Regions from separate parts of the Homo sapiens genome. Here regions 2, 3, 4, 5 and 6 are each linked to region 1. The links come from fine-mapping of genetic effects on gene expression. A gene starts in region 1. Each other region holds a variant in brackets. All regions are shown on one strand. Distances are between the middles of the regions.

Region 1 (5,152 bases):
TCCTAGGTTCAAATGATTCTCTGACTGACACCCAACATGCTGGGATTATAGGTGTGTGCCACCTCCACCTACTACGTTCAAGCGATTCACCTCCCTGACTCCCAACTAGCTGGAATTACAGGTGTGTGCCACCACACATGGCTAATTTTTGTATTTCTAGTAGAGACAGGTTTTGCCATGTTACCCAGGCTGGTTTCGAACTTCTGGCCTCAAGTGATCCCTCTGCTTCAGTCTCCCAAAGTCCATTCTTTATTAGAAAACAAATATCAGACATGGCATGGTGGCTCATGCCTGTAATCCCAGCACTTTGAGAGGCTTAGGCAGGCGGATCACTTGAGGCCAGGAGTTCAAGACCAGCCTGGCCAACATGGCAAAACCCCATCTCTACTAAAAACACAAAAATTAGCTGGGGGTGGTGGTGTATGCCTGCAGTCCCAGCTATGCAGGAGGCTGAGGATTGCGTGAACCCAGGAGGCAGAAGTTGCAGTGAGCTAGGATTGCGCAACTGCACACCAGTTTGGGCGAAAAGAGCGAAACTCCATCTCAAAACAGAAGAAAAGGAAACAAATATCCGATGGGCGTAGTGGCTTACACCTGAAATCCTAGCACTTTGGGAGGCTGAGGCAGGAGGATCCCTTGAGCCCAGGAGTTCGAGACCAGCCTGGGCAACATGGTGAAATCCTGTCTCTGTTAAAAAATAATAATAAAATAAAATAAATTTCCTTACCACCTAATGGTGCGTTTTTATGTACTGAGCAATCACCTCCTTACAAATTCACATTTCTATAGAAAAGAGAGTAGAATTATTCTAGACAAGAACACAGTATGACATGATAAAAAGAATAAGGACTTTGGAGTCAGAGGAATTTGTATTCAATTACAACTTACTAGCTGGGGAAGGCCTTCTTCTATAGGAGGGCATACCAATACTTTATTATCACAGAGCTAGTCGATAAATCTGTTATTAAACATAACTTTATTATACGTATATGTAAGTGCTAGGCACATATCAGTTCTCCCTCCTCATCTTTTCAGCGGAGAAAAAAGAACAGAAGCACTAAGATCTCATTTAATCACTTTATGTTAACAACTGATGAAAAATTAAGTGAAGAAATTAGCTCTTCCCTTAAAATTCTTAGCCATTTCTATCCTAGTCCTCTCAAACTCAGTTTTCAGTCTTATCGAAGCTGTAGTTAGGTCAAAAGCTAGGAATTTTTTCCCTAAGTATTATATAAGGGAGAGGACAAGCAATATCAACTGTCATTCAACCACCAATAACACTTTAGTGAGCCAGGCCCTATTGTCCATCTCCAGGACACGGAGATGAGCCAGGCATTAGCTCTGCCATCAAGGACCTCCGACTGGTGGGAAGATAGGTACACCGGTAATGACAGCAGCACTGAACAAAAAGTACAAATAGATTAGTACCACAGAATGCTACAGAAACAGGTGAAGAAGAGACTAAGCTCTCGCTGAGGTTTCATTTGGGTCTTGAAGCACAAATGTTAAGTCCACTGGGTGGAGAACAAAAAGAAAGGGAAGAATGGCATGTATTCTGTGAGAAGAGACAACCAGTGCAAGAGTTTTGAGATATGCAAACACAAGAACACATGGCATATCTGGTCATGTGAGGATGGGTGGAAGAGGGCTGAGCAGTCTTGGGAAATGGGAACAACAGAATGTTGGGAAGAGAGGAAATCACATTGTGCAACAGTGCTAATGTTCTTAATGCCACTGAACTTTATACTTAAAATTGTTAAAATTGTAAATTTTATATTATGTATTGACATATTTTGTATTTGTATTAACATATTTTAATGCTGGATGAATGAATCCATGTAATGTTTAAGGATCAGTATCCTGCTGGATGCTCTAAGCCTTGCCACTCTACAAGTCTAAGGATCTAAGAATGCAACCAATGCACTGGTGTAAATTTGGGGGCATGTCAGGAATGCAGAATCTTGCCTCACCTCCTCTGCTTGACTTATCAAATAGAATCGACATTTGAACAACGTCCCCAGGTAATTTGTATACACATTAATATCTGAGAAATAGGACATCAGGATGATTTAGGATCAACCCTAGCAACATCTACGTGGAGACACATGGAGCATCACTGACTCCCGACAGGGACTCTGCCCACCTGTCACAACTTCATGGTGAGGAAGGTACTGCCCTCCTTCCTAGGTGAGCTGTTCTACCAATAGAGAGCTCTTCCCCTATGAAGTCTGTGACCCCCGCCTGCTTAGACTGCGCCTGAAGGAATTCTATAGACCCTTCTTTCAGCCCCTTAGAACCTTGTGTATATTCCAACTGGTCCCTGGGAGGTTTTTTTTTGGAACGGGGGTGCGGGGAGGCTAGAAGGGGCTCTGCTGCTAACTGGCTGTATCCTCGTACCCCTCCGGAAGGCTCAATGTCCACATCTGGAAAACGAGGATGCTAATGTAACGCGATGGAGCAAAGTTGTGTGAGAGAATAAAATGAAATAACGGATAAGACAGTTTCGTAAATTAAAAAACACTGTTTCTCCTAATAATTTTTTTAAAATCCTGTCAGACTTCACATATTAATGACAACAGCGGCTGCAAACTAACACGCCCACTAACTTGCAATATCAGAGATTATCAACAAGTCAGCACTTAACACGGGCGTATGGAGCCTCTTCTGTTCCGGCAAAGTGCCTGGGATTTGGATAATCTACCCTGGTCCGGATCGGTTCTGGATCTTTCCCGCCAGAGCTTACCTGAACCACTTTCGTGAATTCCTCATAAACCCGCTTCTTAAGGTGCGCCGCCATGCCTACCCGCGGGCCCTCTCAGCTTCCGTACACTAGGAGGGAGGCGGGGGTGGACGGATCCGGAAAACTTGCGTAGGCGCGGGGGGTGGGTGGATGACTTGCCGAGATCCCACAAGGCAGTGGGATTTGGGGAAAGAGCGACCGCTTCCTGTTGCTCGACTGCCTCGCCACTGTACGGACTGATTTGGCGGCCTACGCCGGAAGAACGGAAATAAGAGCTTCGCTTGTGGGAGGCGGGGCCTCTGGCGGGAGGAGCTGAGACTGAAAGGGTGGGCAACCCAATGGGAGCTTTGGGAGGCTGGTTGGTGGCCTCGGAGTGGCTAAGAGACTAGCGCGGCGCGGCGCGAAGGGAGGGAGGGAGGAAGTACAGGTTAAAGGGCAGAGGCGGGGTGCTCCAGAGCTAGAGGCAAAACCCGGAGCTCTGTAAGGGGTTTACGACTCGTGAAAAAACTCAGAGGCTCGGCTGACTTTCCCATCATCCTTTGCTGTACACGATGCTGTTTGTAGGTTTCCTGAGCACTGCCTTTGTTCAAGCTGTGCGCCACCTCTCTTGTTTTGGGGTGCCTTTCCATACTTCCTTATTCCAGTTTTGCAAAAGCTGCCATCCTTTAAGGCATCAATCCCTGCTCTGATAGCTATAGTACAGTAGAAGACTTCTGAGACCAAGGATAAAGCAACAAAGCTACAGACTACAGCTCTGGTTCTTGAGCAAATGGCTCAACTACAAATGCATTTATAATAACTAACCTGACAAAGATGTGACAATGGAGTGAAATAATGCAGGAACATTTTACGGACTGTAAGGTGTAGTGCACATGTTAGTGTCAGTAAATCCAAGGTCAAGTTTTACAACCTACATGAAACTAGCTGTTCATTATTTTGGTCTTTCAAAAGAATGTGGGCCAGGCGCGGTGGCTCATGCCTGTAATCCCAATACTTTGGCAGGCCGAGGCGGATGGATCACTTGAGGTCAGGAGTTCGAGACCAGCCTGGCCAACATGGGGAAACCCCGTCTCTACTAAAAATACAAAAATTAGTCGGGGCATGGTGGCACACGCCTGTAATCCCAGTTTCTTGGGAGGTTGAGGCAGAAGAATCACTTGAACATGGGAAGCGGAGGTTGCAGTGAGCCGAGATCGCGCCACTGCACTCCAGCCTGGGCGACTGAGCGAGACTCCGTTATCAAAAAAAAAAAAAAAGAATTAATGTGGGATAGTTTAAAAAAAAAAAAGCAGGAGGCTGAGGTGGATACAGAGGACCCAAAAATAAACAAAAGATAGTATTTATCCTCAAGGTCCTACAATCTGAGAAGACAGACACCCAAACTGATGGTGACAGTGCAACTGAAATGTGCTGGGTAACGGGAATGAATGTGGTTCAAACAGACCTAATTTCTTCAGAGTGCCTCAGGGAAGGCTTTCCTAAAATTAGAGGAAACTGGGAGTGGTGGCTCACGCCTATAATCCCAGCACTTTGAGAGGCCGAGGCGGGCAGATCACCTAGTTCAGAAGTTTTGAGACCAGCCTGGGCAACATGGCGAAATCTACTTTAAAAATACAAAATTTAGCTGGGCATGATGGTGGCCCACGCCTGAAGTCCCAGCTACTCTGGAGGCTGAGGCGGGAAAATCGCTTGGGCCTGGGATGTGGAGGTTGCAGTGAGCCGAGATCCAGCCACTGCACTCCAGCCTGGGCAACGGAGTGAGACCCTGTCTCCAAAAAAAAAAAAAAAAAAAAAAAAGGCTGGGCGCGGTGGCTCACCCCTATAATCCCAACACTTTGGGAGGCCGAGGCAGGCGGATCACCTGAGGTCGGGAGTTCGAGACCAGCCTGGCCAACATGGTGAAACCCCGTCTCTCCTAAAAATACAAAAACTAGCCGGGCGTCGGGGTGGGTGACTGTAATCCTAGCTACACGGGAGGCTGAAGCAGGAGAATCGTTTGAACCCAGGTGGCAGCGGCTGCAGTGCGCCGAGATCGGGCCTCTGTACTCCAGCCTGAGCAACAGAGCGAGACTCTGTCTCAAGAAAAAAAAAAGAAAAAAAAAGGAAACTATTTCTAATGCAGCTTTAAAAGAATGAGTTTTTCCAGAAACAAAGGCATCCCAGACCGCCGAGATAAGATATACAAATATGTCAAGGGAAATGAAAAACATTTAGCAAACAGTACCTTTAATAAAGCTTAGCTGCTATTATTACCATTATCATATTCTATCAAATCTAAGCTGCCAGCAATTGTAAAATCAATATTTTATTTATTATGTTAAGAAAAGAAATGCTGAAATTAAATACAATGGTTTCTAATTGCTTAGATTTGTTATGTATACTTACAGAAACAGCTCTTTTTAACTTATTTAG
Region 2 (5,152 bases), 76 kb before region 1:
CTCTTTTGTTTTCTGCAAATGAACCCTGAGCAATAAACTTGACTAAGATCAAACAACTACAAGTCATGTGTTGTTTAACGATGGAGATACATTCTGAGACATACACTGTTATGTGATTTTGTCTCACAAACATCATAGAGTATATTTACACAAATCTAAATGGTATAGCCTACTACACACCTAGGCTATATGGTATAGTCTGTTGCTCCTAGGCTACAAATCTGTACAGCATGTTACTGTACTAAAGACTGTAGGCAACTGTAACACTGGTTACAATGGTAAATATTGGTAAATATGGTAAACAATGGTAAATATCTGTATATCTAAACATCAAAAAGGTACAGTAAAAATATAATCATGGGACCACCACAACGTTGTTATTCAGTGCATGACTGTATTAGCTCAGACGTTAAACAAAATGAGTCTGCCCTCAAAGCTCCATTCACTCAATCACTATACTACACCACTGCAGTTCTGGGAGGCTGTTCTCCCTCAGGTCTCCCAGCTCTTCTAATGTCTGCTGAAGTTGGAACTGTCTTCTGCACATGGACTACGAAACTGACATGCTCAGTTATCATTTCATACTAGCTAAAGGATCTTCTCCTTTGTGAAGCATCCCTCACCACCACTACCGTGATGGGTCGGGGACTTTCATCTGTTTTTCCACAGCATCTATGCTTCTCTTCACTGTATCATTTATCAAATTGATGATTTCTGGGTCCTGTAATAAACAGTGAGTACCTTAAGAACAAATGTCATTTCTTATTTCTCTCTACCCTCAGCAACTGGCTTATTAGAATAAACAAATAGTTAATGCTGCTAAGTGAATGAATGACCTAATATAATGGGAAAACATAACTTGGAGGATGGTTCAGTTGGCTGGCTTTATAACATGTTAAGATGCAATAATGGACAGGAAAGCATGAACAAAGTACAAAGCGCTGTTATCCACCATCATAAGTCTTTGTCTATATCCATCTTGTCTACATGGGCTCTCTAAGGGCAGAATCCTAGCTAGCTGATCTGTATCTAGCACAGAGCTTGTTTCTTAGTGTATGGAATGAAATCATCCACTAAAAATTATTAATTGAATGTGGCTGGTACCAAATACTCTTCCGGGCAGATCAAAAGAGATCTCAACTAAGATACAAATTATATAATATAATATTTTTCCTTCTTTCTTTTTTTTTTTTGAGATGGAGTCTCACTCTGTTGCCCAGACTGGAGTGCAGTGGCGCAATCCTGGCTCACTGCAAGCTCTGCCTCCCGAGTTCAAGCGATCCTTGTGCCTCAATCTCCCAAGTAGCTGGGATTACAGGCGCGTGCCACCACACCTGGCTAATTTTTGTATTTTTAGTAGAGATGGGGTTTCACTCAACGGGGCTGGTCTTGAACTCCTAGCCTCAAGTGATCCTCCCGCCTCAGTCTCCCAAAGTGCTGGGATTACAGGCATGAGCCACTGCACCTGGCCGATATAATATTTTTCTCTTTTAAGAGCAAACAATAAAGAATTTAAACTCATTTGCTTTTAGCAAAAGCAGTACTGTTTGCTCCTCAAAGATATAATTTTTTAATCTTTTAAGAGCAAACAATACTGCTTTTGCTAAAAGCAAATGAGTTTAAATTTTTTTCATATCATTCAGGCCATTTTGAGGAAGGTCTGGCAGAGCCTTTTGGTTGTTCCCCAATATCTTTCTCCCATTCTTCCTGAGTATTAGAGTCATCGCATGTAAACCAGGCATTAGTCACCCAGAATAAAGACTGCATGTCCTCGCTCCTTGAAGTGAGAGATGGCCATGTGACTTAAGTTCTAGTCAATGGAATGCAAGTAAAATTAGAGTGTACAACTTTTGGGAAGTGTCTTTAAACAAACCACAGGGTGGAGATGATACCTTTCTCTTCCTGTTTCCTTTTCCCCACAGGATGGAATACAGGGGGCACAGTTAGATCTGAATTGTTAAGCAGAGGCTGCTTGATGCAGAAGATGAAGACAGAAGAAAGAATGAGCCTAGGCCGGGCACAGTGGCTCACGCCTGTAATTCCAGCACTTTGGGAGGCCGAGGCGGGAGGATCACTTGAGCTCAGGAGTTTGAGACCAGCCTGGCCACCATGGTGAAACCTCGACTCTACAAAAAAAAAAAAGCCAAAATTAGCCAGGTGTGGTGGCATATGCCTGTGGTCCCAGCTACTTGGGAGGCTGAAGTGGGAGAATCACTTGCAGTGAGCTGATATTATGCCACTGCACTCCAGCCTGGGTGACAGGGTGAGACCCTGTCTCAAAAAAAAAAAAAAAAAAAAAAAAGAGCAAGCCTAGATCCCTGATGGTCATCTCAGCCCTGTCCTGCCTATGAGAAAGAATTAAACTTT[G/T]CTCCTGTTTTAGCCACTGTTACTTTGCATTTTGGTCACTCATCCTAATATATAAAATTAAAAAACTAAAAACAGGTTCTTTGTAACTATTTCTGTTGTGTACTAATCATCAATCGAGTCATGAATATAAAGAGCTCTTTTAAAAAATATGTTCAAACCACAATCTAATCCAAATATAAACAGACCATAAAACCGTGTGTGAATGTAGACCAATAAAGTCAGAATATCAAGCCTAGTAACCAACACCAGAATTCAGAACAGTCAAGCTGAGTGTAACAGCACTAACTCTGTCAGATGAAGGGATGATTACCCTACCTGATGGTGAATTCCAGCAGCTCCTGGGCTCCCTGAGGGTCCAAGTGCTGAAGACTATACACTCTTTCAAGGCTCTGCTGCAGGAACTGCTGGGAAGGATCCTCTTGAGGTATGATGCTGGGAGAAACAGCTGATGACACCAGTTTTCTACCTGGTAACTAAGCAGAGTGGGATTACAGAGTCATTAAGTTTGGTGGCTCAGCTTTTGGTAACACACACACAAACACATAAAAGCACATTAAAAACGTGAGCTAAACAAAACAAAGGGGAAAAAAGGCTAGGATATTCTATAAATAACATTTCTCCCCTTCCTCAGCAACATTGGGAGTTAAAGAGAAAGAGACAAAATGCAAACATGGTCTACCCAATACAGCCACAGCTGCCAGGAGAAAAACAGAAAGATATAATATTTTCTATTGCTAACTGAAATAAATGGGCCAACCCTAGGAAGGAGACTAAAAATTGAACTGTTGTTACATTTTTTTTTTTAGACAGAGTTTCACTCTTGTTGCCCAGAGTGCAATGGTACCATCTCGGCTCACTGCAACCTCCGCCTCCCAGGTTCAAGCGATTCTCTTGCCTCAGCCTCCTGAGTAGCTGGGATTAGAGGTGGCCGCCCCCACACCCAGCTAATTTTGTATTTTTAGTAGAGACAGGGTTTCTCCATGTTGGTCAGGCTGGTCTCGAACTCCTGACCACAGGTGATCTGCCTGCCTCGGCCACCCAGAGTGCTGGGATTACAGGCGTGAGCCACTGCACCCGGCCACATTTATCTTTAAAACACTATCTTATCTTTCACTTGAAGGAAGAATAATGATTTATTCCCAAATAAATTTATATAGCATATAATTTTTTCATGAGAATAATTTTTTTTTATTTTTGGCCTAGCCCTACAGATATACTTATTCTTACTGTTAAAAGTGGTTACCTTTTAAGATGGATGGGGAGGAGAGAGCAAAGAGTATTTCACTTTTCATTTTGTATCTACTTGTCTTTTGTTTTTTTTGAGATGGAGTCTCGCTCTGTCGCCCAGGCGGGAGTGCAGTGGCGCAATCTTGGCTCATTGCAACCTCTGCCTCCTGGGTTCAAGCAATTCTCCTGCCACAGCTTCCCGAGTAGCTAGGACTACAGGTGCCCACCACCATGCCCAGTTAATTTTTGTATTTTTAGTAGAGATGAGGTTTCACCATGTTGGCCAGGCTGGTCATGAACTCCTGACCTCAGATGATCCACCCGCCTTGGCCTCCCAAAATGCTTAGATTACAGGTATGAGCCACCGCACCTGGCCTCATTTTGTATTTTCTATAAAGTTTAAATTTTCTAACCATATATATATATACACATATATATACATATACATATACACATATATATACATATATATACACACATATATATACACATATACATACATATATACATATATATACATATATACATATATACACATATATATACACATATATATATATACACACATATATATAAATGTTCCTCTAAATAAACACATATTACTCCAAATAAAGTGATTTGGAGTCACCCAAGCAGGGATGAGTTAATGCAAATAGAGAGATTGGAAGAGTACCTGAGCCACAGCATTCACGAAGTGTTTGCTATTATTATTATGATCTATTTTTAAATTTTCTTCTATATAACTCTAGGTTTTAAAAATAGTAAAGGTTTTATTTTTAAAAAATAAGCACTTGTGGAGAATCATAGCTATATGTAATAGTTAAAATATAACAATTTAGGCTGGGTGTGGTGGCTCATGCCTGTAATCCCAGCACTTTGGGAGGCCGAGGCAGGCAGATCACGAGGTCAGGAGATCAAGACCATCCTGGCTAACACGGTGAAACCCTGTCTCTACTAAAAATACAAAAAATTAGCCGGGCGTGGTGGCAGGCGCCTGTAGTCCCAGCTACTCGGGAGGCTGAGGCAGGAGAATGGAGTGAACCTGGGAGGTGGAGCTTGCAGTGAGCCGAGATCGTGCCACTGCACTTCAGCCTGGGCGACAGAGCAAGACTCCGTCTCAAAAAGTAATAATAATAAAAATAAATAAATAAATATATATATATAACAATTTAAATTCTTGATCTAAAATATAATCTATTGTTCCAGGTTCCTTTCTTCTTGCCTAATATCAATAACCCAGGGACACCAAAAAAAATGAATCATCTTAAAAGGTAAAGGATACAAAAGCAAAAGTATAAAACAATGGCAAAGAGCCCAAGAGAGAAAGAGAATGAACAAACAAGTTTTCAGAGAATATATGGACTGCTTTCTACTATTTAATAACCACAAAGCACAAAAAATAAAAAGCCAAAAACAAGCTGCACACAGTGGTGCTCACCTGTAATCCCAGTGACTTGGGAGGCTGAGCCAGGAGGATGGCTTAAGCCCAGGAGTTTGAGACCGCCCTGGGCAACATAACAAGACCCCCATCTCAAAGGAAAACATGAACAAAAATAAC
Region 3 (5,152 bases), 70 kb before region 1:
TCAAAGTACATACTGGACAGGCATGGTGGCTCACGCCTGTAATCCCAACACTTTGGGAGGCTGAGGTGGGTGGATCACTTGAGGTCAGGAGTTTGAGACCAGCCTGGGCAACAAGGTAAAACCCCGTCTCTACTAAAAATACAAAAATTAGCCGGGAGTGGTGGCAGGCACCTGTAATCCCAGCTACTTGGGAGGCTGAGCCAGGAGAATCATTTGAATCCGGGAGGCGGAGGTTGCAGTGAGCTGGGGTGGTGCCACTGCACTCCAGCCCAAGCAACAGGTTAGGAATTTGAGACCAGCCTAGCCAACATGGTGATACCTCATCTCTACTAAAAATACAAAAATTAGCTGGGTGTGGTAGCGGGCGCCTATAATCCCAGCTACTCAGGAGACTGAGGCAGGAGAATTGTTTGAACCCGGGAGGCAGAGGTTTCAGTGAGCCGAGATCAGGCCACTGCACTCCAGCCTGGGTGACAGAATGAGACTCTGTCTTCAAAAAAAAAAAAAAAAAAGAAAGAAAAGCAAAGAAAAGAAAATTCAGACTACCCTAGCTATACTGCAGAAGGAGATGCCAAAGCTGCCTGCCAACACATCAGGGCCCATCCTAAGCACAGAGGATACAAGCTGGATCATCCATGTCTGGTTCAGCTGTGTCAAAAAATGGGTGGGTGCTCAGAAGCTCTGGCACCAAGGGAAGCACCAGGGTTGGATGCCGACTTCCCAGAAACTTCAAGCACCTGAAACAAACAAATAAGAATGCACATCAACAAATTAGTAAAGTTAGTCCTTTGAAAAGTACTAGGAACTGGAATCAGAAAACCTGAACTGGAATTGGAAATTCTCAACCATATACTTTTGCTAACTCTATGACTTCAGATAAGTCACCCAGTTATTCTGGAACTCGGTTAATTCATCTAAAAAAACTGGTTATTATAAAGATAAAAGAACTGGTTATTTAACCAAGAGCCATTTCCCCCATCTTTCTTCCTGAGAGAGCCCTGATTTTACTCAGGTATCAGGCAGGCAGCAAAGTGCTCGGAAAAGGCAGGTCCAGCCCAAGAGCTGAACCACTATTGGTCTAAACCCATCATGGCAATCCCATTCCCATTTTCCAGTGACTGGTTTGCTGGTGGGCAAGTAAGCCAGTTCTAGACAATGGAGCACGAGAGTATGCTGGCTGGGGAGCTTCTCAGGGATGTTTTTGCAAATCAAAAGAGCAATGCATGAAAGGGAATGACCCTTCCTTTCTGTCTTGAGATATTATCTTATGAGGCAGCCATCTTACAACTATGAGAAGAAAGCCGGCCGGGTGTGGTGGCTCACGCCTATAATCCCAACACTTTGCGAGGCCGAAGTGGCTGGATCAGGAGGTCAAGAGATCAAGACCATCCTGGCCAACATGGTGAAACCCCATCTCTGCTAAAAATACAAAAATTAGCTGGGCATGGTGGCACGGGCCTGTAGTCCCAGCTACTCGGGAGGCTGAGGCAGGAGAATCACTTGAACCTGGAAGGCGGAGGTTCAGTGAGCCAATATTATGCCAATGCACTCCACCCTGGCGATAAAGAGAGACTCTGTCTCAAAAAAAAAAAAAAAAAAAAAGCCAAGAGAACTGCAGAGAAACCAAAGAGAGCCCTGGTAACCTGTTGAATGACGAATCCTGAAACCAACCTTCTGACCACTTGTTATGAAAAAACAGACTTATTGGCTAAGATATTTTTAATCAGATTGTCTTTTTTATTTGTGGGCAAAAACATTCTGATTGATATCCTGGGTGAAGTCCTGAAATCACAGATCTGTCTGAAACTAAGTAGCCTTATGCAAGTAAATTTTTTCATCTACAAAATGAGATTAAAAGTCATTACTTCATAGAGTTGCTATACGCATTAAATAACTAACATAAAGTACTTAGCAAAGTGTCTGTCACATAGTAAGAACTCAATGTTAGCTATTATAACTACATGAGGGCCCTTTATAAACTATAAGGAACTATAAAAGCAAGGTAATTATATATTTTTATTATTGTTTATGGTTTTTTTTTTTTTTTTGAGACTGAGTCTTGCTCTGCTGCCCAGGCTGGCATGCAGTGGCACAATCTCGGCTCACTGCAACCTCTGCTTCCAGGGTTCAAGCAATTCTCCTGCCTTCGCCTCCCAAGTATCTGGGATTACAGGCGTGTGCCACTAGGCCCGGCAGATTTTTGCATTTTTAGTAGAGATGAGGTTTCACCATGTTGGCCAGGGTGGTCTTGAACTCCTGACCTCAGGTGATCCACCCGCCCCAGCCTCCCAAAGTGCTGGGATTATAGGCGTGAGCCACTGCACCCAGCCAATTTAGTGCACCTTCTAAACCAGAACTTAATGAATAAAAAATAATAAGGCCAGGCACAGTGGCTCATGCCTGTAATCCCAGCACTTTGGGAGGCCGGGGCAGGGGGATCACCTGAGGTCAGGAGTTCAAGACCAGCCTAACCAACATGGTAAAACCCCATCTCTACTAAAAAAAAAAACAAAAATTAGTTGGGGTATGGTGGCATGCAACCTATAATCCCAGTTACTCGAGAGGCTGAGGCAGGAGAATCGCTTGAACCCAGGAGGCAGAAGTTGCAGTGAGCTGAGATCACGCCACTGCATTCTAGTCAGAGTGACAGAGCGAGACTCCGTCTCAAAAAAAAAAAGTAACAAAACAAAACACTATATAGGAGAAAGAGGAAATCTAATTAATTTATTTCTATACTTGTAACAGCTACCACAAGGGTTGGTGCATAGTCAGCACACAGCAGGCACATAATATTTGCTAGGTGGATAGATGCACAAATTAGTAAGTAATCTAAAATGTGATACTCAGCTTAGGAATCAGATTCCTGAGAGTTCGGTTA[A/C]GTTGAATCAGGTTTCTAAAGTAAAGGCAAAATTCAGGGCCGTACTATCCTCAATCTATAAGGACGGAACAAATGTCAGCATTATACATTTACCACATTATGGGACTCAGTGAGTAAATGGGCAAAAAAGTCATTACTTCCATATGGAGTCCCTATCAGTAGGGTACTTGGTTAAATTTTTCAGCAGCTCCACCAATGCAAGATGAATCCCTTCTTTGGTTGAAACATTAGTACAGCATAAGAGTTCATGAAGAGCCTCTCGAATATCTCTGGATGAATCCTTTTAAAAAAAAAGTAATAATAACAGTAGTTACTGTTGGTTAGCAGACTCAGCCTCTATCTACCATCCCCTTCTACCCAGCCACCTTCCCATCTAGGGTGGCCATGTAACAAAGTATGTGGAAGTTTTTTAGCTGAAATTCCTGAAATATCTTTCATTTTATTGATAAAGGACCAGAGGCAGTAGCTTTATCCCCTTTGTTCTTTAACCTTCCTTTTCCATCCTATCTGGAACTCAATCATGATGCTGAAGGTACAAGAGCCTTTTTGCAACTAGGAAAAAGGACAGGCTAAGAAGAAAGGCTAAGAGAGAGGCTGGGAATGGCCAGTTAGCAGAACACTCAGAACACACATACTTATTAAGTTTGCCATCTTATACAGGCACAGTTTGTGGCATCCCAAAACAATTACAACAGTAACATCAAAGATCACTGATCACAGATCACTGTAACAGATGTAATAATGAAAAAGTTTGAAATATTGCAAGAATTACCAAAATGTGACACAGACATAAAGTGAGCACATGCTATTGGAAAAATGGCACCGATAGACTTGCTCAATGCATGGTTGCCGCAATCTCTCAATTTATTAAAAAAACACAATATCTGCAAAGCCCAATAAAGAGAGGTATACCTGTATGTGTTAAATGGAGGAGTGAGGGAAAAAGTCAATCTATCTGAAGTGAATTTCAAGATTTCAAGAATGAGAAATATTAAAAGAGAGGCAAATCGAAATGTCACTCCTATCCATAAAATTCTGCAACAGTTTTCCATAATGTTAGAATAAAATCCAGACATCTTAAAATGGCCTACAAGGCTCTCCACCTGTCCCTAATCCCCTCTCAGACTTCATCTCATGCCACATTTCTACTTTCTCACTGTGGTTCACTCCTACTGGCTTTCTCTCTATTCTGCAAACACAACAAAGCTCACTTGTGTTTTAGAGCCTTTCCACTAGCTGTTGCCTCTACCTGAAGTTATTCTCCCAGTCTTCACATAGCTAGCTTCTGTTTATCATTCAAGACTCAACTTGAACATCATCTCCTCAGAAAGTCTTTACTAACCACTCAAATTACAGAGAAATTCCCCATTCCTCAATCATACTGTTTATCTTCTGCAAAACATTTATCACCATCTGAAATCATTTTGTTTGTTTACTCCACCTCTCTTTAGAATATAAGTTTTATGACAGCAGGGATCCTGCCTGTTTTGATATCCCTATATTTCTAATACATAGACAGTGCTTGTTGAATAAAGAAGTGAATTTTTCTAGGCAGGGTAGGATCTTGACATAGCAGGAAAAAAAAAAGGCAAATTCCAGCTGGAAGGGTCAGCAAGGTAAGGCTCAAAGCAATGAAGCCCAGTGACACAGAAAATATAAGGGAGAAGTACACAGCAGGGTGGAAGAATAGTCTACTGTAAGTTTATATTGGTCTGAACTCCTGAAAAGAATTAAAAGGCAAGGATTCTTTGTGAGTTATATACATAAGTACTCACAAATAAGCATACCTGTGAACAATTCTGTACATCAAAACATAGCTTGGAACATAGCTCAGCTACTCAGCAAACACTTACCGAGCACCTAATTGTGCCAGACACTGCTGCAAGACATTGGTAATAAAAAAATGAAGAGTCAGCCGGGCACGGTGGCTCACACCATAATCCCAGCACTTTGGGAGGCCAAGGTGGGTGGATCACTTGAGGTCAGGAGTTCGAGACCAGCCTGGCCAATATGGTGAAACACGATCTCTACTAAAAAAAAAAATATATACAAAAATTAGTATTGTGGTGCGTGCCTGTAATCCCAGCTGCTCGGGAGACTGAGGCAGGAGAATTGCTTGAACCCAGGAGGTGAAGGTTGCAGTAAGCCAAGATCGTACCACCGCACTCCACCCTGGGGAACAGAGCGAGACTCAGCCTCAAAAAAAAAAAAAAAGGAAAGGAAAGGAAAGGAAAAAGGAAAGGAAAGGAAAAGAAAAGAAAAGTCAAGACACCT
Region 4 (5,152 bases), 46 kb before region 1:
GCACAGCAAGGAAGCCATCAAATAGACAGCTGGCAGCGCTTTACCCAACACCCCTGTTCCATACAACCATCTGGGCTGCCAAGTATGCACACGCCAGTACTCAGCCAAAAAGCCAATCCTGCGGCAGCCCCACTCCCTCACAACCCATCACAGAACCACCTGCCCACGCCCTGCCTGACAGCTGGTAATTCAGTGGTCCTGTCCCCTAAAACTGGCCACGATAGAGTCCCAGAGTCCCACAGTCCCACAGCACACAGTCCAACTGGTCCTGTGGTAGCCCTGGCCCCCTACCATAGACTGCTGCCAAACTGCCCAGCCCCACTGCACAAAAGCATTTGAGCCTAGCCCAAAGCAACAGCCAACCAGGCAGTAGCCCCATTTCCCTACATAGCCACAGAGCTGCCCAGCAGGCCACCGCGGCAAAGGCCTGAGCCCAGCACGACAGCCACCACAGCAGCAACTACTGCCTCCCTGGAAAACCAGATAGACAGCCTGGCAGCCATTTTAGCCTGTACATGTCTTGGCCAGAAATCAGCTCAGTACCCTCATCTACAGCATTGCCATCACAAACTCCCACAGCCTAGGCAACTGAGGCAATTGCAAACATCAATGACTAGGATTATAGCTGAAGATTACAGCTGAAGCTGACAAGGATTATTACACCACCCACTGAGTCCACCCAGAACCAAAGGCAACACACCATACCCAACTAATACCCTAAAACCATCTACAGAAAAAGACTGTTACTATATACTAGCTACTCAATAAAATTGAAAAGAGCAACTACTCTACTAAATGCACAGATATCAACATCCAGTATCTTACACACGATAAATGAAAATCAAGGAAACATGACACCCTCAAAGGAATACAGTAAGTCTCCTGGCTGGGGGCAGTGGCTCACATCTGTAATCCCAGCACTTCGGGAGGCCAAGACAGCCAGAAAGCATGAACTCAGGAGTTCAAGACCATTCTGGGCAACATGGCAAAACCCGTCTCTACAAAATATAAAAAAATTAGTCGGGTGTGGTGGCATGCGCCTGTAGTCCTAGCTACTCAGCAGGCTGAGGTGGGAGGATCACTTAAACCCAGGAGGAGAAGGTTGCAGTGAGCTGAGATCATGCCACTGCACTTCGGCCTGGGTGACAGAGCAAGACCCTGTCTCAAAAAAAAAAAAAAGGAAAAAAGTCTCCAATGACAGACATTAAAGAAAAGGACACTTACAAAATGCCTGAAAAGGAATTCAAAATAGTGATCTAAAGGAAACTCAGTAAGATACAAGAGAATACAGACAAACAATTAAATGAAATCAGGAAAACATTCATGATCCGAATGAGAAATTCAACAGAAATCAATATCATAAAAAAGAACCAAACAGAAATCTTGGAACTGAAGAATTTAATGAAAAAAATAAAAATAGTATACAATTGAGAGCTTCAACAATAGACTAGGATCAAGCAGAAGAAAGAATTTCTGACCTTGAAGACAGGTCTTTCGAAATAACCCATTAAGAGGAAAAAAAAAAAACAAGTAAGAATAAAAAAGAAAGCCTTGGAACATATGGGACATCAACAGGCAAACAAATACTTGCATTGAAGATTGCCTGATGGAGAAGAGAAAGAGAAAGGCACAGAAAACCCATTTGATGAAATGATAGCTGAAAACTTGCCAAGTAGTGGGAGAAATACGGACATCCAGATTCAGGAAGTTCAAAGGTTCACAATTACATTCAACCCAAAAAGATCCTCTCCAAGGTACATTATAATCAAACTATCGAAAGTCAAAGAGTAAGACTTTCAAAGCTGCAAGACAAAATTGTCAAGAGAATCTCCATTACTATCAACAGATTTCTCAGCAGAAACCTCGCAGACCAAGAGAGAATGGGATAGAATTAATATATTCAAGGTATTGAATGCTACAGCTAGAAACAAAAGGACAATAATCACTATCATAAAAACACACAAAAGTATAAAACTCACCAGTAAAGGCAAACTCATAAATCAAACAGATCAAACCCCAGTGATACAATATGTCATATAAAATTTTCAATCTGCTAGTATGAAGGTTAAATTCAAAATGGTCAAAAACTACAACAGCTACAAATAGTAGCTAAGGAACACATAACAGATGAAGAAGAAAATTAAGGCAACAAAAATATAAATTGAAGTGGGGAGGGAAAAAATCTAGGGTCCTTTTATGTAACCAAAGTTGAGTTGCTATCAGCTTAAAACATTCTATTGTAACTGCAAGACTTTTTTTTTCCCCCTTGAGACAGTCTTACTCTGATGCCCATGCTAGAGCATAGTGGCCTGATCACGGCTCACTGCAGCCTCAATCTTCCAGGCTCAAGTGATCCTCCCACCTCAGCCTCCTGGGTAGCTGAGACTACAGATGTGTGCCACCATGCCCAGCTGATTTCTTTTTTCTTTATTTAGTAGAAACGAGGTCTCACTATGTTGCCCAGGCTGGTCTCAAACTCATGAGCTCAAGTGATCTGCCTGCCTCAGCCTCCCAAAGTGCTGGGATAATAGGCAAGAGCCACCACACCAGCCTAACTGAAGACTCTGTAGTAACTATGTAGAAAAAAGTTACAGCAGATACACAAACAAGAAAGAGAATGAAAATAAAGCGTGGCCCCACAGAAAACCACTAAATCAGAGGTAAACAACAAGAAAGGAAGACAAGAACAAAGGATCTCCAAAATTACTTTTTGGTAATTAACAAAATGGCAGGAATAAGATCTTATCTATCAATAACAATCTTGAATATAGCTGGGCGCGGTGGCTTATGCCTGTAATCCCAGCACCTTGGGAGGCCAAGGCAGGCGAATCACTTGAGGCCAGGAGTTTGAGACCAGCATGGCCAACATGTCAAAACCCGTCTCTAATAAAAATGCAAAAAAATTAGTTGGGCATGGTGGCACATGCCTGTAATCCCGGTACTGGGGAGGTTGGGGCACGAGAACCACTTGAACCCAGGAGGTGAAGGTTGCAGTGAGTTGAGATCACACCAGTGCATTCCAGCCTAGGTGACGGAGTGAGACCCTGTCTCAAAGAAACAAAAAAAAAAAAACAAAAAAAAA[AAAG/A]AAGAAGAAGAAGAAGGAAAAAATCTTGAATATAAATGGATTAAGTTCTTCAATTAAAAGGTACACTACAGCCTGGGCAACAGAGAGACAGACACCCTGTCTCAAAGAAAGAAAAAAAAAAAAAGGTATACATTGGTTGAATAGATTAAAACACAAAATCTAAGTATACATTGCCTAGAAGAAACACACTTCACAAGCAAGAATTAAAACATATACCAAAACCTACGGTATGCAACAAAAGCAGTTCTAAGAGATAAGTGTACAGCAATAAATGACTACATCAAAAAAGAAGAACAATCTGGTTTTTAGTTTTTTTTAGCGACAGTTTCGCTGTTATCCAGGCTGGAGTCCCCAGGAGTTTGAGGTTGCTGTGAGCTATGACTGTGCAATCGCGGAACCGCACTCCAGCCTAGGCAACAGAGCAAGACCCTGACTTAAAGAAGAAAATAAAAAAAGAATAAAATCTTGTCATTTGCCACATCGATAAACCTGGAGGACATCATGTAAAGTGAAATAAGCCAGACATGGAAAGGCAAATATTGCATGATCTAAGACTTAAACATAAGACCTAAAACCATAAAAACCCTAGAAGAAAACCTAGGCAATACCATTCAGGACATAGGCATGGGCAAAGACTTCATGACTAAAACACCAAAAGCAATGGCAACGAAGCCAAAATTGAGAAATGGGATCTAATTAAACTAAAGAGCTTCTGCACAGCAAAAGAAACTATCATCAGAGTGAACAAGCAACCTACAGAATGGGAGAAAATTTTTGCAATCTATCCATCTGCCAAAGAGCTAATATCCAGAATCTACAAAGAACTTAAACAAATTTACAAAAAAAAAAAAAAAAACCATCAAAAAGTGGGTGAAGGATATGAACAGACACTTCTCAAAAGAAGACATTTATGTGACCAACAAACATATGAAAGAAAGCTCATCATCACTGGTCATTAGAGAAATGCAAATCAAAACCACAATGAGATACCATCTCACACCAGTTAGAATGGCAATCATTAAAAAGTCAGAAAACAACAGGTGCTGGAGAGGATGTGGAGAAACAGGAACACTTTCACACTGTTGGTGGGAGTGTAAATTAGTTCAGCCATTGTGGAAGACAGCATGGCGATTCCTCAAGGATCTAGAACCAGAAATACCATTTGACCCAGCAATCCCATTACTGGGTATATACCCAAAGGATTATAAATCATTCTACTATAAAAACACATGCACACGTATGTTTATTGCAGCACTGTTCACAACAGTAAAGACTTAGAACCAACCCAAAGGCCCATCAATGATAGACTGGACAAAGAAAATGTGGCGCATATACACCATGGAATACCATGCAGCCACAAAAAAGGATGAGTTCATGTTCTGTGCAGGGACATGGATGAAGCTGGAAACCATCATTCTCAGCAAACTAACACAAGAACAGAAAACCAAATACCGCATGTTCTCACTCATAAGTGAGAGTTGAACAATGTGAACACATGGACACAAGGAGGGAAACATCACACACCAGGGACTGTCAGAGGGTGGGGGCTGGGGGAGGGACAGCATTAGGAGAAATACCTAATGTAGATGATAGGTTGACGGGTGCAGCAAACTACCATGGCACATGTATACCTATGTCACAAACCTGCATGTTCTGCACATGTATCCCAGAACTTAAAGTATTAAAAAAAAAATTGATATCATAGAGGCAGAGAGTATAACAGTGGTTAGCAGACACTGGGGAGGGGAGGGAGTAGGAGAGAATGGGAAGAGACTGGACAACAGATACAAAGTCACAATGAAGAGAAATAAATTCTGGTGTTCAACTGCACATAAAGGTGACTATGATTAACAGTAAAATATTGTATATTACAAAATATACAATATTATAGCTGCAAGAGAGGCTGTTGAAAGTTCATGACAAAGAAATGATAAATGTATGAGGTGATAACTATACTAACTATCCTGATTGGATTAATATTCAACATAGATGTGTATCAAAACATCAACTTGTGCCCCATATATACAATGTGTCAATTTTTGTTTGTTTGTTTTATTATACTTTAAG
Region 5 (5,152 bases), 270 kb before region 1:
CACTAGATTATTAATTAGCACCAAGATCCTCCCATCTGTGTTCTCAATGTGCGATGTAAATACCCCTGATTCAAAGTGAAAACTGTTAAGATGAAATGACTCGTTTTCTTATCTGTCATGTCACATATGGCTCCTACCCTCCTTTCCCTTTCCAATTCCATGCCAGCTAGATTCTACTGCTTTAGAGTAGGAACTCTGCATTCCAAAGAGCCCCTGGACAAGTTGTATATCCTCATTAGGCCTCAGCTTTCTTATTTATAAAATAAAAGAACAGATTCTCTTGAGTATTACTAAATTGGTCTTCTAAATAAAGCAGTAAAATTGCCACTGATAAAAATCAGAAATTAAAATGACAATCAATTATACATGAGAATAAAACATACATGTTCATACATATCATATGAGCATATATAATAACCAGTCTAGAATTTTAATTATCTAATATCAAAAGGTAAGACTAGATGTTTTCTCAAAGTCTTGTCTGGTCCTGCCTCCATTTTACAGGAAGGAAAATTAAGACTCAGAGACTTTATTTATTTTTGGCAAAGATCCAGTCCCCTAATTTCATTACAACCTGCTTCTAACTTAAGGATCTATGCTTTATTACTACTCATATTCCATTGAGAATTCCATATGTTAAAAAAAGGAAAAAGAGAATTCCATATGCAACGAATGGCTCGATCTATTTATTTCTGAAAGTCATGGTGGGAACTGAAGAGTATACTGAAGTTATGCACCATAACAATTTTAAAAAGCTTCAAAACGTAAGAGAGCTAATATTGCTAGGAAAATCTATTTCAATTACTTCCACTACTTTTTTTTTTTTTTTTTTTTGAGATGGAGTTTCACTCTTGTCACCCAGGCTGGAGTGCAATGGCAGGATCTTGGCTCACTGCAACCTCCTCCTCCTGGGTTCAAGCGATTTTCCTGCCTCAGACTCCCGAGTAGCTGGGATTACAGGCACCCATCACCACGCCTGGCTAATTTCTTTTGTAATTTTAGTAGAGATGAGGTTTCACCATGTTGGTCAGGCTAGTCTCGAACTCCTGACCTCAAGTGATCTGCCTGCCTTGGCCTCCCAAACTGTTGGGATTACAAGCGTGAGCCACTGCACCCAGCCTACTTCCACTACTTTAAGCAAAAAGGGAATTTAGCATTAAAATTTATTAAAGAACAACTCCCTAAAAGGCTTTTAATCTGTTTAATGTGTTTAAACACAAGCCTAAGGTAGTCGTTATTATATGAAAACAAAACTACCCATCTTTGGGTTTTTCCTATTTTTGAACAATTTAAAAAATCCTAAATCTGAGTTAGTCAGAGGAAATTTTTATGAATTCCCTCAAATCACATCCAAATTTCTTAACACTATGTACAGAATATTTTAGACTATGGACCCTAACAACAATCCAGTTGTTTTGCTACCCCTCCCTCACTTGTTCTCTGTTCTCCAAACCATTTCTTCTTTCAGGTATGTTAAATCAGATATATCCCTCCAAAATACCAGGCTTTCTTAGGATATCGGGTGACTGACTGCACTTCTGCTCTCTTAGCCTGGAATGTGTTCCCCATGGCTAATTCCAATTACTCTCTCAAAGACAAGTATAGAATGAATAAACAAAATCTAGTATATCTACATATGGAAATACTACTCAGCCATAAAAAGGAATAAAGTTCTGATTTATATTACACGGATAAACTTTGTAAAGATTACTCTACTTGAAAGTGGCCACAAATGGCTGGGCGTGGTGGCTCACACCTGTAATCCCAGCACTTTGGAGGGCGAGGCAGGCAGATCACCTGAGGTCGGGAGATGGAGACCAGCCTGACCAACATGGAGAAACAGGAAAGGAAAGGAAAGGAAAGGGGAAAGGAAAGGGGAAAGGGAAGAGGAAAGGGAAGGGGAAAAGGAAGAGGAAAGGGAAGGGAAGGAAAAAGGGAAGGGAAGGGAAGGGAGAAGGGAGACGGGAGAAGGGAAGGGAAGGAAAGGAAAGGGAAAGAAAGAGGCCACACACAGAAAGTCACTTATTATATAATTCTATGTATACAAAATGTTGAGAATAGACAAATTATAGACACAGAAAGATTGGTGGTTGTTAAGGGCTAGGAAAAGGGAGAATGAAGAATAACTGCTAATGGGTACAGGGTTTTCTTTTTAGGGTGAGAAAAATATCCCGGTGTTAGATAGTGGTACCAGATGCATAACTTG[T/TAA]AAAAAAAAAAAACTGCTCAATTATATATATTTTACAAAAAAGAGATGGTGGCTTGGACAAGAATGCAGCTATGAAGGAGAAGTGATCAAATTCTAGATACAATCATGCATGAAGAGCTGATTGGATTTGCTGTTAGGGTAGATGTGGAGTGAGAGAAAAAGCAGTTACGGATGTGCTCCAAGGTTTTGGGCCTTAGGGTTTACACTTGGTATAAAAGCACTCTCTGTAGTCCCACTCTGTTCCTGAAGAAGCACCTGATGGAATCTGGTATAAGGTCTCTATTTGCTAAATTTCTCTCATCATTAATAACCAAACACTAACACTTGGTTATTATATTTACATCTCTGCTTATCTTTTTCATTCCTAAAGAAATTCTATTGACACATTCCATAGGGTTGAGCCAAGGAAAGGATGTAGCTGCTATTAACAGAGATGGGACGTTCAGATTAGGGTAGAAAGGTTCAAAGTTTAGTTTTGGGCAGACTGGTTACTGACTTTGACTTAACCAGATTCTAAACTGTTATATTTTCCTATATGTACCTTAAGTTAATCTAGACTTCAATGAAATGGAACACGTCATCCTAACCATTATTATTGTGAAATATGATTTCTCCCAGCCTAGGAGTTGTTCAGAGTTTGAATTAGTGGTAGGTGCTAAACATTTCAGAAGCAATGAAGAAAAAAAAAATAACAAAAATAAACAGACGCCCCTGAACCCCAACCCCACAAAAAAAAAAAAGTCAAGTATAGGCATTATCTTCTGCCAAGTATGAGCCAAGTATCTGGTTCTTCCACAGCACCCTTGATAATCTCCATCACAGACTTTGTGACTCTGTATTATGTAATATCTCCCTGTACCTTTCTCCCATAACAAAAACTCCTTAACAAATGGGACCAGGTCTTCACATCTACAGAGCATAAAACAGTATAAATATAACAAGCCTTTTGTAAATATTTTAAATATATGATTCCAGAGTTGAGAAACAATATTCCAACTTTTTGGTATAAATGCCAAATTATTCAGTAGGCAAAAAAAAAAAAAAAAAAAAAAAAAAAATTGTGGAGGCCAAGAAAACTGAAGAGGCATTAATTAGTAATATCAATAGCAGTACTATTAATCTAAGATGTTAACATTAGTGAATGAGCACTATGTTCCAAGCATTAATTATTCCAAGAGTTTTATATTAATTAGTTCATATAATTCCAATATAACCCAATTAAGTAGGTATTAAATTATTCCCATTTTATGACTGAGGAAACTGAGGACACATAGAGAGGTATGGTAATTTGCCTAAGGTAAGTTAGTACAATTTAGCAAGACTGAATTTTGAAGTCTGACTTTAGAGCCCTTCTTAATCACTGTGCTATATTAGCAGGTTTTAGATATATATATATGGTTTAGAAATGCATTCATACAGTTTGTAATTATGGGTACATGAAAACTGTATATACTATTTCAAATTCAACTTTCTGAAAATGACTGTCAAACCATTATCAATTTTGAAAATATTTTTAACGAGGTATAATTCACATACTGTAAAATAAACATATTTTAAGCACTCAGTTCATCAGTTCTGACAAATGCATACATTGTGTAATCTACACCATAATCAACATAAGGAATATCACTATTCCCACAAAAATTCCCTCCTGTCCTTTCCTACTCAATTCCTTTTCCCCACCAAAGCAAGAAGAATCACAGTTTTTATTATGATAACCATAGATGATACAGTTTGGCTGTGTCTCCACCCAAATCTCATCTTGAATTGTAACTCCCACAATTCCCACGTGTTGTGGGAGGAACCCAGTGGGAGGTGATTGAATTATGGGATGTGTCTTTCCTGTTCTGTTCTCGTGATAGTGAATGAGTCTCACGAGATCTGATGGTTTTGAAAACAGGAGTTTCCTGCACAAGCTTTCTTTTCCTGCCGCCATTGATGTAAGACATGACTTGCTCCTCCTTGCCTTCTGCCATGATTTTGATGCCTCCCCAGCCATGTGGAACTGTGAGTCCAATTAACCTCTTTCTTTTGTAAATTGCCAAGTCTTGTCTTTATCAGCAGCATGAAAACGGACTAATATAGTAAATTGGTATCAGGAGTGGGGCGTTGCTGAAAAGGTACCTGAAAATGTGGAAGTGGCTTAAAAAATGGGTAAAAGGCAGAGGTTGGAAGAGTTTGGAGGGCTCAGAAGAAGATATGAAAATGTGGGAAAGTTTGGAACTTCCTAGAGACTTGTTGAATGGTTTTGACAAAAATGCTGACAGCAATATGAACAATAAGGCCCAGGCTGAGGTAGTCTCAGAATGAGATGAGGAACTTGTTCCCCAACAGGAGTAAGGGTGAGTTTTGTTACGTTTTAGCAGAGACTGGTGGCCTTTTCCCCTGCCCTAGAGATTTGTGGAACTTTGAACATGAAGGAGATGATTTAGGGTATGTGGAGGAAGAAATTTCTAAGCAGCAAAGCATTCAAGAGGTGACCTGAGTGCTGTTAAAGTCATTCAGTTTTATAAGGGAAGCAGAGTATAAAAGTTTAGAAAATTTGCAGCCTGGCAATGTGACAGAAAAGAAAATCCCATTTTCTGAGGAGAAATTCAAGCTGGCTTCAGAAATTTGCATAAGAAACAAGAAGCCAAATGTTATCCCTGAGACAATGGGGAAAATGTCTCCAGGCATGTCAGAGGTCTTCACGGCAGCCCCTCCTATCACAGGCCTGGAGGCCTAGGAGGAAAACATGGTTTCATGGATCAGGCCCAGGGTCCATGTGCTGTGTGCAGCCTAGGGACTTGGTGCCCTGCATCTCAGCCACTCCAGTCATGGCTGAAAGCTGCCAATGCAGAGCTCAGGCTGTGGCTTCAGAGGGTGCAAGTCCCAAGCTTTGGCAGCTTCCATGTGGTGCTGAACCTGTGAATGCACAGAAGAACTGGAGTTTGGGAACCTCTGCCT
Region 6 (5,152 bases), 37 kb before region 1:
ATTAAGAAATTCTGGGGCTGGGAGTAGTGGCTTAAACCTGTAATCCCAACAATTTGGGAGGCCAAGGCAGAAGGATCACTTGAGCCTAGGAATTCAAGACCAGCCTGGGCACAAAGCAAGACCCCATGTCTACAAAAAATACAAATTAGCTAGGCAGGGTGGCACATGCCTGTAGTCCCAGCTACTCAGGAGGCTGAGGTGGAAGGATTGCTTGAGCCCGGCAGGTCAAGGCTGCAGTGAGCCGTGACTGCACTATTGCACTCCTGCCTGAGCAACAGAGGAAGACCCTGTCTCAAGAAAAGAAAAAGGAAAATAAATTCTGGGGTTTTAAATTCAGGTCACACTGCCCCATCTGTAGTTTCTCAAAATGTCTGTAAAAACTTAATGAGAAATGTGCTCATTTAAAAAAAGGATTATTGGCTGGGTGTAGTGGCTCACATCTATAATCCCAGCCTTTTTTTTTTTTTTTTGAGATGAGAGTCTCCCCCTTGTCGCCAGGCTGGAGTGCAGCAGCGTGATCTTGGCTCACTGCAACTTCTGCCTCCCAGGTTCAAGCGATTCTCCTGCCTCAGCCTCCCGAGTAGCTGGGATTACAGGCGTGCGCCACCATGCCCAGCTAATTTTTGTATTTTTAGTAGAGACGGGATTTCACCATGTTGGCCAGGATGGTCTCAATCTCCTGACCTCGTGATCCGCCTGCCTTGGCCTCCCAAAGTGCTGGAATTACAGGTGTGAGTCACCGCACCCAGCCTATAATCCCAGTCTTTTGGGAGGCTGAGGCAGGAGGACTGCTTGAGGCCAAGAGTTTGAGACCAACCTGGGCCACACAGTCCTCATTTCTACAGAAAAGAAAATAAATATATACATGCATACATACATACATAAAAAGTATAACTTACCAACAGTTTTGCTGCCTGAACACGAACCACCCAAGAGCCATCACTGACCATGTGACAAATTTTGCCAAACGCATCATCAACTAAGCGTATTTCTTCATTAGAAGAAGGAATTGGGACAATGCTAAATTAAAAGAAAAGAAATGAAATCACTTAGAACAAAACATGAACCTAAGTCTGCAGGCTCAGGCCAGGCACAGTGGCTCACATCTATAATCCCAACACTTTGGGAGGCCCAGGCAGGTAGATTGCTTGAGCCCAAGAGTTCAAGACCAACCTGAGCAATATGGCAAAACCTCATCTCTACAAAAAAAATACAAAAATTAGCTAGGCGTGGTGGCATGCGCTGATAGTCCCAGCTACTTGGGAGGCTGAAGTGGGAAGATTACTTTAGCTCTGGAGGTGAAGGTTGCAGTGAGCTGAGATCACACCACGGCACTCCAGCCTGGATGACACAGCAAGACCCTGTCTTGAAAAATAAATACAGTCTGGGCGCAATGGCTCACGCCTGTAATGCCAGCACTTTGGGAGGCTGAGGCAGGTGGATAACTTGAGGTCAAGAGTTCGAGACCAGCCTGGCCAACATGGCGAAACCTCCTCTCTACTAAAAATATAAAAATTAGCCAGGCATGGTGACACATGTCTGCAATTCCAGCTACTCAGGAGGCTGAGGCAGGAGAATCGCTTGAACCTGGAATGTGGAGGTTGCAGTGATCCAAGATAGTGCCACTACACTCCAGCCTGGGCAACAGAGCGAGACTCCATCTCAAAAAATAATAATAATAATAATAATAATAATAATAATAATAATAATAATAATAAACAAATAAATACATAAGTAAGTAAGGCTGCAGGCTCAATAAACTGAGAACAGTCAATGAAGACTGACACACACAAAAATGATAATTGAATAGTTCAAATCCTAGAATGATTAAATACAGTTTGGAATAAACAAATCACTCTGGGAGTACAAACCAACTCTTTCAGTTGCATTGCAAATTATGCTTTTTTTTGAGACAGGGTCTCACTTCTGTCGCCCAGGCTGGAGTGCAGTGGCGTGAGCACTGCTCACCACAGTGTCAACTTCCTGGGCTCAGGTGATCCTCCCAGTTCACCCTCCTGAGTAGCCGGGACTACAAAAGCATGCCACCACACCCAGCTAATTTTTTATATTTTTAGTAGAGATGGTTCACCATGTTGCCCAGGCTGATCTCAAACTCCTGAGATCAAGCAATCCACCCGCCTCAGCCTCCCAAAGTGCTAGGATTACAGGGCTGAGTCACTGCAACCAGGTGCAAATTTTCAATGTATTGAATAAAAGTGTGTAACCCACCAAAGGTTCAGCCAGGCGTGTAATCCCAGCACACTGAGATACTGAGGCGGGCAGATTACCTGAAGCCAGGGGTTCAAGACCAGCCTACCCAACATGGCAAAACCTCATCTCTACTAAAAGTACAAAAAATGAGCTGGGTGTGGTGGTGCGCGACTGTAATTCCAGCTACTTGGGAGGCTCAGGCATGAGAATTGCTTCAACCCAGGAGTTGGAGGTTGTAGTAAGCCGAGATCACATCACTGCACTGCAGCCTGGGCCACAGAGCAAGACCCTGCCTTAAAAAAAAAAGTACGTAACCCACCAAAGGTTCAAAGATTTATGAAATTATCAAAAACTAGCTTCCACCGAATATTTCATATCCTTAAGTTTATTATCTTCTGTAACTGAACTT[C/CT]TTTTTTTTTTTTTTTTTTTTTGAGAGAAAGTGTCTTGCTCTGTGACCCAGGCTGGAGTGCAGTGGTGTGATCTCAGCTCACCACAATCTCCACTTCCCAGGTTCAAGCGATTCTCCTGCCTCAGCCTCCCTAGTAGCTGGGATTACAGGCGTGTGCCACCATGTCCGGCTAATTTTTGTATTTTTAGTAGAGACGAGGTTTCACCATGTTGACCAAGCTGGTCTTGAACTCCTGACCTGAGGTGATCCGCCCACCTCGGCCTCCGAAAGTGCTGGGATTACAGGCACCACCGTGTCCAGACTGAACTTCTATAAATACAGTAAATCTCAGAATAAATCAATATAAAACTTACTTATCAATCCAGTCCTAAAAGAAGACACAATTTCCAGTTAGCCCTTTTCTTTGTATGTGTCTAAGTCCTAAAACACTACAAATGGAGCCTACTCCTACAGGTTTATTAATTCATTCTGGTTTTCAAATTCTGGCAGTTTAATGAACAGGAAAAAACACCCCTTTTTCCTATACAAGGAAAAATAAAATATTCTATAAATATTTATAAATAAAAGATAAATAAACATTTATAAATATAATATTCTATCTTACAAAATATAATAAATAATATTGCCTACCTCCTCAAAGAATCACTGTGGTTAATTTAATTGCTGTGAAAATATTTTTAACCAGGAAAACTACATAAGAGATCATTATTCTCAAACTCATCTGGTATCTTTATCTGGCATTTGGCACAAGCCAAACTAAAATGGGTCCCAAACAATTTTAAAGATTTTTTTGTAAAGTACTGAAAACCATTTAAGAAAGATATTCCAATTTCTTCACTTATGGATGAGAAGGTTAGGATAAAAGAAGTGAAGTATCTTTCCAAAGTGTACAGAAAGTTCCTATCAGAGATGAAAAATGAGGACCAGGCAATCTGATTTTCAGGGCCTGTGCTTTTCCCTTATTCCCCATTGCCTTCCAAAAATGTAACCAACATTTCTTTTCTAGAAGTGGGCTTTTTGCATGGTGAGAGGAGAGGAAAACGGCTTCACAATCAACAAAAGCCAGCTTACACCCACACTGACCTTTCAGGATAGAGCTGACTGACGACCCAGATAAGCTGGACTGCAGCACTGCGCACTTGTTCATAGTCATCAGAGAGTAATTTACAGGCCTGCAAAGAAGAATTCCAAAAGTCTATTAGTTCTGTGTCCTCTCAGGCAATGTTTAAACTATTTTCAAAGTGAAGATAGGGTGGTTGGATAAGGATGCCCAGTAAAACACTTGTGTGTGGTTTTAACTTCTGGAATCTTTGCTTAAAAATGAATCTTGACCTCTGTCAGCTGCTCTGGCTGTATTCTGACTATGCACCCTACCCCATGTCTGAAAGGAGAATCACAGACTGACAGCATAAAAACATCTAGAACAGATCAAACCCAGCAAAGCATGCTGGGAGCAAACAGTACTGTTCTCACAGGTTCAAACACCAATTATGGCTTTTTCCTCCCCCTGTAAAAATCAAAGCACACACTTCTGTTTACCTTGGTCTGAAATCACTGGCCTCTGTTTCAATCCACTCACTCTTTCTGGGTAGCCCCATACTCCCTAAATACTGATGGCTTTGAATACCTACCCTTAGCTCTGATTTCTCCTGATCTCCAGGCCTTTATAACTACTTATGGCTGGAATTCTCTTCATGGATGTCCCATCAAACTTTTATACTCAACACACGCAAACCTGAACTCATTAAGGAAGCAAATTCTACCTTATATCTTAAATTCTACACTATCAGTCCATCCTCACTCCCTTGATGCTGTCATTACTGCTTGCCTAGATTACTAACAGAGTCTTACGCCACCAAACATCTGAATCAGCCAACTAACTTCCCTTCCTCTGAGTCCTTACGATCCAAGTTTCCTTTGAATTATTTGGCTTCCCACATAGTTTTCTTATAGAAAAAGAAGGCGATGGTCACACCACCACAAGCATTCTGGACCCATTCTACTTCATTCAATAGAGGAATAAACTTGGTTTACACATCTGTGATGGGGCTTGGCTAATTATCTTCTTCCCATGAGAGATAAAACCACTCTTGGCAGGCTAACAAAACCTAATCTCTGAACGTGGATTTAGATTCCTTTTACCAGATTCAGTCAATTATCCTCCAAGAGAAATACAGCCTCATAAGGCCTTTTGGTTGGCCATCAATCAGCTTTTCCACAACTTCATTATACCTTTCTTTACCACTACTACTACATGCATGTGACTTTTTTTTTATATGATCCTACGGTCTTGGTCACCCTTCTCCAGACACACTCTAGTTTGTGAAGTGTGGTGCCCAGAAATGAGTTCATGTACGGCCCAACCAAACAGTGATCAGAAAGACTAACACGTTCCTTATTCTAAATGCTACACTTTTCTTCAGGTACTCTCATTCTCATACTGAACTTTGTAAATCCTCCTAAAAGTCCTTTTCACATGTACTAGCGCTATTTAATTACATAACCTCCATTCTCTTCCTGAAAAGTATGTTT

Direction of the effects. Alleles are on the strand shown, and positions count from the first base shown. SD is a standard deviation of normalised expression in the study named. Not every link is listed here.
With allele TAA in place of T in region 5, the expression in prefrontal cortex of the gene that starts at base 2,822 in region 1 is higher (small effect, 0.39 SD a copy in BrainSeq).

Evidence for each region. PIP is the estimated chance that this variant, and not a neighbour inherited with it, causes the effect.
Region 2: its variant is the best candidate, but not a certain one, in a credible set for the expression of INTS4 in whole blood (TOPMed, PIP 0.51).
Region 3: its variant is the best candidate, but not a certain one, in a credible set for the expression of INTS4 in whole blood (TOPMed, PIP 0.79).
Region 4: its variant is the best candidate, but not a certain one, in a credible set for the expression of INTS4 in monocytes (Quach 2016, PIP 0.81).
Region 5: its variant is the best candidate, but not a certain one, in a credible set for the expression of INTS4 in prefrontal cortex (BrainSeq, PIP 0.71).
Region 6: its variant is the best candidate, but not a certain one, in a credible set for the expression of INTS4 in monocytes (BLUEPRINT, PIP 0.70).

The regions. Positions count from the first base shown.
Region 1 is chr11:77,991,847-77,996,998 of GRCh38, forward strand. INTS4 (integrator complex subunit 4) reads right to left here and starts at 2,822. Exons shown (of 23, transcript NM_033547.4): 1 at 2,744-2,822. The coding sequence starts at 2,797. RefSeq lists an enhancer at 2,737-2,936 and a silencer at 3,137-3,206.
Region 2 is chr11:77,916,139-77,921,290 of GRCh38, forward strand. INTS4 (integrator complex subunit 4) reads right to left here. Exons shown (of 23, transcript NM_033547.4): 15 at 2,683-2,840. Among named protein-coding and RNA genes, the nearest start is that of INTS4, 76 kb to the right of the region's middle. The variant G/T (reference allele first, on the strand shown) is at 2,368.
Region 3 is chr11:77,921,735-77,926,886 of GRCh38, forward strand. INTS4 (integrator complex subunit 4) reads right to left here. Exons shown (of 23, transcript NM_033547.4): 12 at 3,016-3,158; 13 at 622-737. Among named protein-coding and RNA genes, the nearest start is that of INTS4, 70 kb to the right of the region's middle. The variant A/C (reference allele first, on the strand shown) is at 2,879.
Region 4 is chr11:77,945,596-77,950,747 of GRCh38, forward strand. The region is part of intron 8 of INTS4 (integrator complex subunit 4); the gene reads right to left. Among named protein-coding and RNA genes, the nearest start is that of INTS4, 46 kb to the right of the region's middle. The variant AAAG/A (reference allele first, on the strand shown) is at 3,083.
Region 5 is chr11:77,726,660-77,731,811 of GRCh38, forward strand. All of the region lies in intron 4 of RSF1 (remodeling and spacing factor 1), which reads right to left. Among named protein-coding and RNA genes, the nearest start is that of RSF1-IT1, 10 kb to the right of the region's middle. The variant T/TAA (reference allele first, on the strand shown) is at 2,207.
Region 6 is chr11:77,955,043-77,960,194 of GRCh38, forward strand. INTS4 (integrator complex subunit 4) reads right to left here. Exons shown (of 23, transcript NM_033547.4): 7 at 3,704-3,792; 8 at 900-1,020. Among named protein-coding and RNA genes, the nearest start is that of INTS4, 37 kb to the right of the region's middle. The variant C/CT (reference allele first, on the strand shown) is at 2,621.